Regions from separate parts of the Homo sapiens genome. Here region 2 is linked to region 1. The links come from fine-mapping of genetic effects on gene expression. Tissue or cell type: whole blood. Region 1 holds a variant in brackets; the other region holds the start of a gene. All regions are shown on one strand. Distances are between the middles of the regions.

The links. PIP is the estimated chance that this variant, and not a neighbour inherited with it, causes the effect.
Region 2: it holds the start of MINPP1, and the variant in region 1 is fine-mapped to the expression of MINPP1 in whole blood (INTERVAL, PIP above 0.99).

The regions. Positions count from the first base shown.
Region 1 is chr10:86,975,329-86,978,085 of GRCh38, reverse strand. All of the region lies in intron 1 of AGAP11 (ArfGAP with GTPase domain, ankyrin repeat and PH domain 11), which reads right to left. Among named protein-coding and RNA genes, the nearest start is that of ADIRF-AS1, 5.5 kb to the right of the region's middle. The variant TACAC/C (reference allele first, on the strand shown) is at 1,139.
Region 2 is chr10:87,503,651-87,506,150 of GRCh38, reverse strand. MINPP1 (multiple inositol-polyphosphate phosphatase 1) reads right to left here and starts at 1,258. Exons shown (of 5, transcript NM_004897.5): 1 at 599-1,258. The coding sequence starts at 1,235. MIR4678 (microRNA 4678) reads right to left here and starts at 2,270; the gene lies at 2,197-2,270. It overlaps LOC112268064 (a long non-coding RNA gene), which reads left to right and starts at 1,317. Exons shown (of 2, transcript XR_002957094.2): 1 at 1,317-1,816. RefSeq lists enhancers at 979-1,038, 1,199-1,288.

The DNA.
Region 1 (2,757 bases):
AAAAACATACTATTTTTAAATATGGAAAAAGAATAGTCAACATTCCAACATGAATTTTAGGAAGAAAAGAAGACACTTAATAAACAACAGCTGTTATGAAGGAAGACTGTAAAGCAGTTGCCAGAACTCTGAGAGGAGATGGCCAGACAGCAAGAGCAGGCAGAAGAGAAATATATCTCAGAAATGAATAGAAGAAAAAAGACTAAACAAACCATGGCAGATAAGAAGCACAAGAAGGTAGATACCACCGTAGATGCCTATAGAACAGAAATGGAAAAAGTAAAGAAAAAAAGGAATGAAAAAGATACACAGTATTTGGGAGACAACAGTAGATATGGAAAGTAGGAAGAAAAGAACTTCATACTCACACTTGGAATTCCCAAAGAAGAAAGCTGAGCAATGGAACAGAGCAAATATTTTAAAATACAATTATGCAGGAGCTGGGCACAGTGGTGCATGCCTATAGTCCTAGCTACTCCAGAGGTTGAGGCAGGAGGATCACTTGAGCCCAGGAGTTCGAGGCCATAGTGTGCTATGTTCACACCTGTGAACAGCCACTGCACTCCTGCCTGGGCAACACAGGGAGACCTCATCTCTAAAAAAAAAAAAAAGACAAAAGATAAGTGTTGGTGAGAATGTGGAGAAAAGGGAACCCTTGTACACTATTAGTGGGAATGCAAATTGATATAGCCATTATGAAAAACACCATGGAAGGCCAGGCGTGGTGGCTCACATCTGTAATCTCAGCACTTTGGGAGGCCGAGACGGGCAGATCACGAGGTCAGGAGTTCAAGACCAGTCTGGCCAACATAGTGAAACCCCATCTCTACTAAAAAAAAAAAAAAAAATTAGCGGGTGTGGTGGTGTGTGCCTGTCATCCCGGCTACTCGGGAGGCTGAGGCAGGAGAATTGCGTGAACCCAGGAGGCAGAGGTTGCAGTGGGCTGAGATCGTGCCATTGCACTCCAGCCTGGGCAACAGTGCAAGACCTGGTCTAAAAAAAGAAAGAAGGAAAGAAAGAAAGAAAAACACTATGGGGATTCCTCAAAAAATTAAATATAGAGCTAACTTATGATCCAACAATCTGTCTTCTGGGTATATATGTATATGTATACATACACCACACATACACAGGTACA[TACAC/C]ACACACACACACACACACATATATATACACACACACATATATATACACACACATATATATACACACACATATATACACACACACACACATACATATATACTTTTTTTTTTTTTTTGAGATAGGATCTCACTCTGCCACTCAGGCTGGAGTGCAGTAGCGCAATCATGGCTCACTGCAGCCTTCAACTCCTGGGCTCAAGGGATCCTCCCACTTCAGCCTTCTTAAGTAGCTGGGACTACAGGCGTGCACCACCACACCTGGATACTTTTCCTATTTTTTGTAGAGATGGGGTATCACTGTCACCCAGTCTGATCTAAAACTCCCGAGCTCAAGCTATCCTCCCACCTCAGCCTCCCAAAGTGCTGGGATTACAGGCCTGAGCTACCACGCCCAGCCTTGAATTAGTATTCAAAGGGCAAACTGCACACCAGGCAACAATGAACCAGAGCCATAATCATTGAGACAAACTCTAGAAAAATTATTGTACTTTAAACTTAAAGAAAGAAAACAAGCCAGAAATATCATGTTGCTTATTAGAAATTCCTGCAGGAGTCTGGACACAGTGGCTCACACCCGTAATCCCAGTGCTGTGGGGAGGCTGAGGTGGGAGGATCACTTGAGCTCAGGAGTTTGACATCAGCCTGGACAACATAGTGAGACTCCACCTCTACAAAAAAAAATTTGTTTTAATTAGCTGAGCATGGTGGCACACACCTGTAATCCCAGCTACTTGGGAGGCTGAGGTAGGAGGATTGCTTGAGGCCAGGAGTTTGAGGCTGCAGGGAGCCATGATCAGGCCACTGCACTCCAATCTGGGTGACAGAGCCAGACCCTCCCTGTCTCTACAAAAAAAAATTCCAGTAGGGAGCTGGTGCAGCGGCTCACACCTGTAATCCCAGCCCTTTGTTAGGCCAAGGTGGGAGGACTGCTTGAGGCCAAGAGTTTGAGACCAGCCTGGGGAACATAGTGAGACCCCCATCTCAAAATAAATAATAAATTAAAATTAAAAATAAAAAAAGAAATTTCAGTGTGCATCAGACATGTAGGGTCTGCTCAACCTTCTGTGCCAGAAGGCAGTTGCAGCCACACCTAGAAGACACTGAAGCTGAAGAGGGAGCCACAAACCTCAAACCCAGCCAGGGATAAAGTCTAAAGGCTACAGACTAACAATACCAACCAAACATTTAAAAATCAGAATACTGTTCACATAAGCCCTTCTTTTTATAAAATTTTTATTTTAACTTTTTTACCGTTTTAAAAATAGAAAATGTCATACACAAAAATAGAATATAATGGGCCGGGCACGGTGGCTCCCGACTGTAATCCCAGCACTTCAGGAGGCTGAGGTGGGAGGATCACCTGAGGTCAGGAGTTCGAGACCAGTCTGGCCAACATAGTGAAACCCTGTCTGTACTAAAAATACAAAAATTAGCCAGGCATGGTGGCACATGCCTGCAATCCCAGCTACAGGCATGAGCTGAGACAGGAGGCTGAGACAGGAGAATCGCCTGAACCCAGGAGACGGAGGCTGCAGTGAGCCGACATCATGCCAGTGCACTCCAGCCTGGGCAACAGAGGAAGACTCTGTCTCAAAAAAATAAATAAATAAATAAA
Region 2 (2,500 bases), 530 kb before region 1:
CTACAGTAAAAACATGAACAAAACAGAAGAAAAAAGGAGGACACAAAGGCTTGAGATCAGGTTCCTAAAACAGGGTGTAGGTCTAAAACTGTCATCTGAAAAAGATGATGAGTTTAAAAAAAAAAAAAAAGAAAGAAGGAAAAACTAGTATCGGAAGCAAAGCCCGAGGAAGAAAATTCTAGATTCTGTTTTTTAAAACGTGCGCCCAATTGTGAAACTAGACGCCAGGGAAGGGGGAAGGGATGGGTTGGCGCTCGAAGGGGCAATTCAGTTTGGGAACGGGAGCGCAAAAATTGCGGGAGACCTCGTCTGTCCCCTTTCCTGTTGGATCCCCAACTCTACTAAAGCAGGCAGCGAGTACAAGGTGCTGAATTTACACCTGATGAATTAATAAATGAACATACGTGTAAGGGGAAAAAGAGATAGCCAAGTCTGTAATATCCCTCGACAGGGAGGACGTAGCCCGAGGGATGATGGCTTGGGAAAAGAGGAAAGAGAACTGGGGGGCATCGGAAAAGCCCAGGGTCTGGGGGAGGCGGGAGAGCATCCAGGGCGGGTGGGAGGACCGGGACAGCACACGGGCCGCCCGGGGGGTCACCTGCGACGTCCGGCGGCGGCAAGCCAGGGTGGTAGTGCTGCCACAGCCCCTGCAGGAAGGCGGCGCTGCTATCCATGCAGCGGTGCTTGGAACTGGTGATGAGCCGCAGGCGGCCGTAGTTCTCACGGCTGAAAAGGGCCGGGAAGAGCGAGGCCAGACGCAGCGCCAGCTGTCGCATATCCTGCCGTCCCTTCTCTACTAGCTGCCCGTCCATCCAGTCCGCGTACCACAAAGGCCAGTCGGCCAGCGCTGCACCCAGGTCGCGGCTGCCGGTACTACTAGCCCCGCCATCCCTGGACCCGCGGGCCTGCAGCAACCCGTGCAGCTGCCTCAGCTTGCGGATCTGTTTGACCGTGGGGTAGCGGGTGCCGTGGCGAATGAGGGCGACCAGCTGCACCGGGGTGCAGGTCCCCTCCAGCAGCTCAGGGTCCCGCCACGGAGCCTCGGGGCCCGACAATAGCACGGGGTTGACATCCTCGTAGCGAGTCTTGGTGCCGAAATAGGGGCTGAGCGACGAGGCCACCGGGTCCCTCGGCTCTAGAAGAGAGCAGCGCGCAAGCGACGAGAGCAGCGCCGCAGCCAGGGCCGCGGCAGGCGCTACGGAGGTCCGGAGGAGGCAGCCGGGCGCGCGTAGCATCGTCGGGACGGTCAGTGGAGTGCGCCGAGCCAGCTGCAGATGCCCAGCTTCCGGCTCCGGAGGGCAGGGGGCGGGTCTGGAGGGCGCTTCCGGCCGGCGGCCCTCGGGATGCGCTTCGCTGTTCTCTAGGAGGTACCAACCTCTGGCGGTGGGTCTTGCGTCCCGGCGGAAAGCTCCGAGGAGTCCTGTAGACTTGTGGCTCGGGTGGAGCCGGCGGAAAACCCCGAGAAGCTTGAGACAGCCGTGGCTGAGGTGGAGCCGGCGTCGCTGCCCTGGAGCGTGGGCGAGTTTCCTCTTAGCCGGAGCTTCAGGGATTGACTCAAAGACTCCTCCGCTTTTTTAGTTGTTTTGGGTGTGAATACAGCCCGGACTAAACCTTAGTCGCCTAGACTAAACCTTAGCCTCCCAGGCTGCCAAAACAGCACAGCTTTTACAGATGACTCTTACATCACCATCCCTACTCTGTGATACTGTGTTTTTCAAAGTTTAGTGCCTGAACCATCAGCATGAAATCTGCCTGAGACGGTTGTTGAAAATTCACATCGCTGGGCCTTGCGGCAGGATGCCTCTTGAAGCCCAAGGTTTTTGTTTCGTTTTTTTCCATTTGAGTTTGAAAATAAACAGGATACAGTAAAGCAGAGAACTTGGAAAGGGGCTTACATTCTGCAGGAATTTAAGTCCTGAATCTTTGGTATAATCTTGACCTGGACTACCAGAGCTAACGCCGACATCAGTGAGACAGCACCCTAAAAGTTCTGTGCTTGTTGTTCCCGAAGGCTTAGCGAGTAGAGACATAGCAATCTAGAGAATTTGGGTGCATTGAGTCATGGCCCAACAGATTTACTCTATTATTAAGTATGAGCTAATCTGCTTTGCGAAGCAAACATGCTCTGTATTTACCACCACTCCAGATCCATACGTTCCTCCCATGTACTTACTTACATACTCAAATCAAAAGCTGGGTTTTTTAATAGGTTATTGCTCAGAATCTTTGACCCCAAAAATCATAAGTCTGAACAATACCTTGTTTTTTCCCACTTGAACTCCAGTTTATTTGCCAGCTGGGGAAATAATAAGTATTACAGAAGTCGTACGGTGATCCAGATTTAAGGAAATTGGGACCACGTTTTCATTAAGTTAGCTTTTGCTTCAAAGACACTATTACATTGCTCTTTATAAGCCCATCACCATCTTTACTCCTTTTCTCTTTAAGTGTCTCCTTGGTTTAGAGAGGTGTTCCTCTAAGTTTAGGCGTGCCTCTAAAT